Linked DNA regions of Homo sapiens: region 2 is linked to region 1. Evidence: fine-mapped QTL for protein levels in blood plasma. A gene starts in region 1. The other region holds a variant in brackets. All regions are shown on one strand. Distances are between the middles of the regions.

What was found. PIP is the chance, under the fine-mapping model, that this variant and not a neighbour inherited with it causes the effect. Sun 2018 read protein levels with aptamers (SomaScan).
Region 2: its variant is fine-mapped to the plasma level of the IL12RB2 protein (Sun 2018, PIP 0.94).

What each region holds. Positions count from the first base shown.
Region 1 is chr1:67,305,654-67,310,190 of GRCh38, reverse strand. IL12RB2 (interleukin 12 receptor subunit beta 2) reads right to left here and starts at 2,318. Exons shown (of 17, transcript NM_001374259.2): 1 at 2,224-2,318. RefSeq lists a silencer at 2,266-2,455 and enhancers at 2,916-2,965, 2,996-3,095.
Region 2 is chr1:67,327,842-67,331,841 of GRCh38, reverse strand. It overlaps IL12RB2 (interleukin 12 receptor subunit beta 2), which reads right to left. Exons shown (of 17, transcript NM_001374259.2): 6 at 3,458-3,642; 7 at 2,113-2,255; 8 at 1,032-1,182. Among named protein-coding and RNA genes, the nearest start is that of IL12RB2, 22 kb to the right of the region's middle. The variant T/AAAAT (reference allele first, on the strand shown) is at 1,565.

The DNA of each region.
Region 1 (4,537 bases):
TTTTTTGAGATGAAGTTTCATTCTTGTCGCCCAGGCTGGAGTGCAGTGGCGTGATCTCTGCTCACTGCAACCTCTGCCTCCCGGGTTCAATCGATTCTCCTGTCTCAACCTCCCGAGTAGCTGGGATTACCATGCCACATGGTGTGTGCCACCATGCCCCGCTAATTTTTGTGTTTTCAGTAGAGACAGGGTTTCGCCATGTTGGTCAGGCTAGTCTCAAACTCCTGACCTCAGGTGATCCCCCCACCTCGGCCTCCCAAAGTGCTGGGATTACAGGTATGAGACACCGTGTCCCGCCATTCTGCACAAATTTATTTGTAGGAGTTGACAGCAGTGCTGTGAGCGTAATTACAAAGATGACAAATAATTTGGTAGAGAACAAAGCAGGTGCAGCAATACAAAAATAAGTCCACAACTGAGAAATGATGCCCAATACCTACTGTACTTGGCGGATTCTTCTACCTTAAAAATTACATGTGTGCTTTCGAATTTTTTTTCACACTAAAACTCATTCTAATACAGAAAAGATTCCGTTTGTCAAAGTTTGGGAATTTATCAGCCTATGTAATGAACATGACATTCAAGAGGCATGACATATGGAAAAGAGCATATTGCAAACTTTTCTGGAGGCTGTTGTGCCTAACAGATAGTGTAATGTATTGAGGATTTCACATTAAAATAGGGAAGGAAAGTGTTAGCTCTTAGCCACTAAGGTCCTTTTAGTTATGTGTTGGACAGAGAAATAGGGCACTGTACCATTCCTATTAATGGAAAATGAGAATCCAACGTTTGTTTGTTCAAGTGGAGGTGGTTATAAGGTTCTGAGCCAGAGAGGTGGAAACAGAAGGAACACAGTTTTGAGCCAGAAACCTGTAACTCTCTAACTGTGTGAAACATGTAAGTTTCCACATCTGTAAAATGGGAATACTAATAACAATTTCACCATGTTTTTAAGGAATTAGATAATATATATCCAAAAACCAAATACATAGTAGGTGCTCAACAAAGATGTTCATCTACACAGAGCACACACATAGCAGATTATAACAATTATCTAGAGTTTTAAAAATGGGGAAAAAAGGACTAATTTAGCTTTATTCTTTATATATATATGTGTATGTGTGTGTGTGTATATATATATATATGTATATGTATGTATGTATTTATTTTTAAGACAGAGTCTCGCTCTGTTGCCCAGGTTGGAGTGCAGTGGCCCCATCTTGGCTCACTGTAACCTCTGTCTCCCGGGTTCAAGCAATTCTCCTGCCTCAGTCTCCCGAGTAGCTGGGATTACAGGTGTGCGTCATCATGCCCAGCTAATTTTCGTATTTTTAATAGAGACAGGGTTTCACCATGTTGGCCAGGCTGGTCTTGAACTCCTGACCTCAAGTGATCTGCCCACCTTGGCCTCCCAAAATGCTGGGATTACAGGCGTGAGCCACCGTGCCGGGACCCTGTTCTTAGACAAGGTCTATTTGTATGCTTTTAGGTTACTATTTGTAAGACCTGGATCTAATGGTACAGATACATAATCCCGTACAATGCTGACACTGATATTTAGTGTGTCCTAGGGAGATGAGGAGGGCCTCATAGTTCACAAAGGAAGGGGCATTTCACAGAAGAGAAAACTGAGGCTGGCCAATTTGCTTGCACCAGAGCATCTTGCTAGTAACTGGCCAGGCAGGGACTCGGGGTCAGTCCAGAGGCCACAGGAAAGACTGCTGAGACAAGGTTAGTTCACCCTCATCCGGGACTACGGAAGGCCCCCCCCAATATCTTACTCACATTTGATACATTTTCAAGCAACGGGAGCCACGTCTGTGGGCCTGAACCAAGGCTGGACCCTCAGGGGTGCCCTCTGCCCTTTTCCAGTCGCCGTCCCCTCCCTTCCGTTTGAGCCCACCACTCTGTGCCCCGGCCCAGAGAGTACCTTGGAGGCTCAGTCCGCGCGCTCCCTCCCCTCCATCCAGCCAAACCACCACCCAGTACCTCCAAGTGAACATCTGTGCCCAGGGCGTTAGGACTGTGATGAAGAGAAGCCATTTCGGATCGTATTGGAAGACTTTAAAAATATATATATACATATATATATATAAAGAGAGAAGCCGTCGCCGAAGCCCCCTCGGGAGACGCGAGACACGGAATCCCGGGCACGCAGACACCCCGCTGGTCCGGGATCCTGGGGCTCTCTCTGTCCCCGACCCCGAGTCACTGGTCACTCACCACGTGTCGCCTGCCAGCGGGCGCGGTCCCGGGCCTGCGGGGACCGGGTGGCCCCGGTGCTCTGGGCCGCACGTGTCGCGCTCTCCGCGCTCTCTGCCGGCGCTCGGGCGTTCCCGGTGCCAGCGCCCGCCCTCCCGCCTCCGCCTCCCGCCTCTGCGCCACCAACTCCGGGGTGGGCGCGGGGAGCTGGCGGCGAGTGAGGATCGGGCCGGGGCGGGGGTCGGGGCTGGGCGGTGGCCGCAGGGCGGAGAGGACTCGCTTCTCAGTTCAGCTCTGGAAGCGCAGCCGGGCGGGCGCCCGTGGTTTCCACCCCGCGGGTCGAAGCGGGCTCGGGTGGGATTCTGCCACCTGTGGGCTCTGCTGTGTCGCCTTGAGCAAGATAATTCTCTCTCCACCGTCAGTTTCCCCTCATATAAAATGCGGATAATAAAGCCTGTCTCATAAGACGGAGCAAGGGTTGACCGAGGTGAGGTGCGTTTATGCACCAAGATATGATAGGCGCGATAAAATCGTGTGCTCAGCGTTCACAGCCATAGAGACGTGGCACTTTGTTGACAGCCATCAGGGAACTTTCCTCGCAGATGTCCTTTCTCTGTGCTCTGCACCGCCCAGCTCTTACCACACCTGAGCGCCGAGGCCTCCCAAGTGGGCTGTGCACAAGACCGCCCACTGGAGTGCGGGCAGAACATACTGGAACTTCCATTTGTATTTGCTGTCTAAAAAATGAGAAAAAAGTTAAACTTGAACAGATGGCGTGTCACCACTCCCGTATAGGTCCCGTGTTATAAGTGGTGTTCTCAGGCAAGAGGGAAAACTGCCCAGAGTACAGAGGGGTCGGCAGCTCTGCATAATATTCATGACATAATATTTATGACAATATTACTTAGAAAAAAACTGTATTTAAACCTGTAAAGACAGACTCTCACTCTGTTACCCAGGCTGGTCTCAAACTTCTGGCCTCAAGCAATCCTCCCGCCTTGGCTTCCCAAAGTGCAGGGAATACAGGCCTGAGCCTCTGCACCCGTCAGCTTAGATTTCTTTAAATCTAAGACTTCCTTAATTATAAGATATACCATTATTTATGCGCTAGTAAGAAATAAAAAGAACTGCCAGGTAAACAATAACAATGCTTTCTCAACATTTAGAATCTTTTAAACTAAAATTTTATTTAGTTTAGAGATTTTATTTAGATATCTCTAAATAAAATTTAGATTTTAAACATATGTATATTATCTATCGAATTTTTTTTTAAGTCCCCCCCCCTCCCCCACCCCGTTGTCTCTGGAGTTTTCTTCTAGTCCACTGAGCCCAGTACAGGTTTGCTGAGCCCGCAGAAGTGGACAACTGCATACCACGCTTCTGGGCATTACCTTAAAACCGCTCTCAATGTTTGAGATGTTAAATATGAAAAATGTACATCTTGGAATCAACAATGTACAGTAGATTGTCTTTATGGGATTGTGACATACTGTAGTTTACATGCTTTAGTAATTTATCTACATGAATAATTTTACTAAAATCTTTTAAATCGTAGAATCTAGAATCTTAATATTACTTTGTAATGAGATGATACATAATTGTAGAAATCATTTGTAACAAAGATTTTAAAAGTTGTCTTAAAGTGAGTTATTTTCTTTATTTTTACAAAAAAACCCCAAATATCCTAAATTTGCTGATCTTTTCTGTATTGATATATGGCTCTCAGTACATGTTATCTAATAGATCTTTTTGAAGAACAAAAAACCCCAGAGGTTTATTTGTTGTTTCTTCAAGGTAATTTTCACACCAAGTGATACGTTGTTATGAAGAGACGATTTGAAAACAAATATTTCGAAGTGTTCCCATTATTGTGTGTTTTTCTTACTGAAGATTTTATGATTGTCATCACAGAAAATGCTTTTAAAAACTCGGAAACAATTTGCTATTTTGTTTCAATCTTTTAATTGAGCAGTTCAGTGGATTTTAAATCCATTTGTTAAAAAATATAAAAATGCAGCAGCTTCTCATTACTTTAAAAACTGATTGATATCAAGAATAAGATTATGATAGCCAAATGTTATAACAATCTTGCATAATTCATGGATTTTTCAACACTTTTTAGTGAGAAGGAAGGCTTTTAGTTTTGTTAATAAATCAATAATTTCAAAAATGCATTTTACTCTATCTCATTTAAAAATTTAATTTATATATTTGTGTGTGCATATGTGTGTGTGTGTATATACACACATATAAATATACATATGTTTTTCTGTTTTTTTTTTTTTGAAACAGCGTCTCACTCTGTTGCCCCGGCTAGAGTACAGTGGCACAATTT
Region 2 (4,000 bases), 22 kb before region 1:
TATGAGATGCAGTCTCGATCTGTTGCCCAGGCTGGATTGCAGTGGCACAATCTTGGCTCATTGCAACCTTTGCCTCCTGGGTTCAAGTGATTCTCCTGCCTTAGCCTCCCGAATGGCTGGGATTACAGGCACGCACCACGATGCTTGGCTAATTTCTTGTCTTTTTGGTAGAGATGGGATTTCACCATGCTGGCCAGGCTGGTCTCGAACTCCTGACCTCGTGATCTGCCCACCTCAGCCTCCCAATGTGCTGGGATTACAGGCCTGAGCGACCATGCCGGCCTAAATGAGTGCTTTTAAAAACTAATATTCAGATGGCTATTTCTTGTGTCTCCAAAGATTTAATATTGGCATAAAGTTTACATAGGCATTTTTGCTTCAATAAAATATTTTCTTATACTTCAATAACATTCCCTTCCCAATAATTACTAAAAAAGAAAAATTCATCAGACTGAAAAACACATTTGATATCCTTTTCATAGTTATGGGTGGCCAGGTGGTTCTCATTTGTGCAGTAAATATCAAAGGCTTGAAGTACAGTGTTATAATATTTGGACAAGAGAGGATTGCTGGATGCTAAATTTTATTTTGAAATATGTGTCTCCAGAGCCTACTTTCTTTCAAGCTTTCCATATGGCTTATTGAGCCACATTACTTTTCATAGAATCAAAAATATAAAACATATGAAGCTTTAACAAGAAATGAGATTAATTACTGGTTATAGCTCTGTGAAATAAGTTACTGAGATAGTAAGAGAGATAAGTTATAACCAAGCATTATAACCAACATGACTGATAGCAAACAGGAGTAGAACTTACCCAATGTTAAAAATTTCCTTGCAACACAAACATATTTCCTTGAACAGTTTCAGCACTTAAGTTAATATAAAAATTAACTTGTTAACTAATGCAGTCATGCTTTTTGATTCAGCACCAGTAGTTTAAAGATTCTATTCCAAGGAAATCATTACATCTTCCCCCCTCTCTCCCCTTTATTGCTCCCCGATAGGTATGTATATTTTGGACATATACCTTCTTCTGGTGTTTGTGCTCTCAATGATTCACTCCAATCACTCCAACTTCCCTTATAAAGATGTAGCTTAGAGGAAATCTGAAATTCATATTCTGTAAATGGTTTCAGATCCAGCAAATCATGTCTTCCTTTGGCCTTTGTAACATTAACCTTGAAACAGACATTTTTTTAAAGTGCCTATTAATACTAGATTGCTAATTTAAGGAATTTTAACATAAAATGAAAAAAAAAAAACCCAGGCTATTTGATCTTATTTGTTTTTCAGACCTACCATTAAATGAGAAGAAATATCAGTGACTGTCTTACCGAATAGATATGATATTAATCTGAAATGATAGCATCTCATTAAAAATAAAACAAAATCTCTGGGTACTAAGAACCCATCTATGTAGGTTCTCGAGGGGAATCCTGAAACCAGCTGAAAAATAAGATTGAAAACTACAAAGTTTCTACACTAGAGATTATTTTTTATTTGATTACAATTAGGATGTGATGAATGTTTTAACACAAACATAGCACTGGCTTTTTTTTT[T/AAAAT]TTTAAAAAAACCCTTTAATTAGTTATACTCTCTTGAATATCAGCTATCTGTGGGACTGATCCTTTGTTATTATAAGCCATTGAATTTTACAACAATCCCGGAAAGAATCATAATCCTATACCTTTTATTTTAAAACATGCAATGCCTAATATTATATTAAATTGTAGACCTTTTCTTTGGAATATTAAATTCTATATAACTCTCTGTGGACATTTCTTAATATTTCTCTTTTCAATATCTTTTTTAAATGCTAAAAAATAATAACAGGACAGGGTAAATAATAAGGAGAAATGAATCCTCTGTTAGAAATAAACTATAGAAAATTAATATTGGTTTACAAAAGCTTTAAAAATTTCAGAATCAGAGATCAAAATTCAAGATATTTCTTAATCAACAGAGGCATACATGACTTTCTGATAATTCTCTCGTGTGTACTTTTGGGATAAATATTCTTAAACTCTATTTTTTGCTGTATGAAAAGACAGAGGTCTGCGCAGCAATATTAAGAATGCTTCAGTGTTTTTTCCTTCACTCTAAAGATAATTACCATATTCCAGAGCCTGCTGTTACTGGGCCGATATCTGAGTCGATTAAGCAGTACCAGTCCCTCATCTCTCCAATAAAGGGTACATCTGCTCACAGAAGCCTTTTGAAATTTGATTCTAATGTCCCACGGAGGAAGAGGCCTCACTAGTAACCAGGACAAACAAAAAAGTGTGGTTCAGGATCTGTGATCAGCAATTGTCTTATGTACTGGCATGAGCTATAAAGAGTTTGACAAAACTCAGTTCTGAGATGCACAACCATCAAATTTGGTAAAATATACAAGAGAAAAGTTCCAGGCTTTAAGAAAGAACTTTTTTAAAAGCTGGATTCACTTCTGAATCTTTAAAATAATCCCCCTTAATCAAATCTCATTTTCACCAAATAACTACTACCAACATTAGTGGTAAGTTTCAACTACACTTAGTCCAGTGGTTTTTCAAAAACCAATGTGCCAAACCCAAGAGTTCCAATGACTGAGAAGCCAGAGACGGCTAGTGATGACTGCCTCAGGAGGAGAAGAAATGTTCGTAGGAAAATTCATAGCAAAGGGACAGAGGAAAAGAACAAGGGGGCGAGAAGGTAGCCTAGAGATGAACGGTCTATGAAAGAAATGGGAGGAAGCCTGAGAAGAAATATGGTGGAAAAGTGTATAGTAAATGCCAATGATCAGACTCATCGTTAGCAATATGTATGCAGAGAAGTGCCATGGAAAGAGAGGCGAGAAGCACATAGTGTGAGGTTGGAACTTCAGGCAGCCCAGTTCTGCCTGGATGGTCAGAACTTGGAATGCTTGAGATTGGCCTCTGATTCAACTGGACCGATTACATTTGCTCAGAAATGTACTGGCTCACTCCAGGGATGGAGGTGAGTATTCTCAGAGCAAGATGCATCTGTGACTTGAGAAATTTTATTTATAGTTTGTACCTCGCTGCTCTAGCCTAGCAGGCCCACATGTAGCCTATCTCACAACAATGGGAGTAGCCATGGGGGCGAAAGGACACCTCCTCCAAGAAGGGCTTGCACTGAGCATCTTGAATGACCTCACAGGACCCTCTCCTCAGTCAGGTGGTATCATTAGTAGCTGGTTCTTTCATGGGATTTGAATCCAGGGGCTAATTTCTTCAATAGAGAGAATAATGTTGAACATCCCACTTTGTATAGCCATCTTTAGATAGCTCAGAATAATGCACCCTTTTACTTGCATCAAAGTAACTTCTATCTTTTGCTTATGCCTGTTGGCCAATTTCCATCAATCTCTGTCTTTCTTGAAACAACCATATAAAAAAGATTTGAGTGATTTTAAAAATAATTATAAAGTACCAATGAAACAGTGAAATAAAATGTACCTATGTCCAAGAATGTGAATGTGGATGGAAGTGAAGAGGAGCTTCCAAGACTATTGACAGCAGTAACCTTGGCTGTGAAATTGGATTCAGGTGATTCAGGGGTGAGGTTGATTCCAAAGTCCAAATAGTCACAATAAATGTCTTTACATTGCTTCTGCCAGGTTAAATTTTTTGGTCCACTTAGCCTGTAAACAAAACACAACCACGTGTAGCAACATGTTTTATGTGCTACTTTCTACTTACAGTAGAAAAGAACAAAATGTTTAAATATTTAGAATTCTAGACAATTTTTAAAGGTCAATCTTATGACTAGGGGATACACCCCGGGAATATTTGTACTATATGGTCATGTAAGACTATACTTCACCCAACTCCCTTTTTTGGTAGAACTGAGATGTTCTTCCACATTCATGTAGATAGGTAACCAAGCCTACGCTGCTGAAATTCCCCAAACCCTGCTTGTCATCTTGGCTCCCCAGGGCAGTTCCAAACATTATCCTAAGCACTGTGGCCACCTTGACATCTGTGGCACAGAATTGTCAG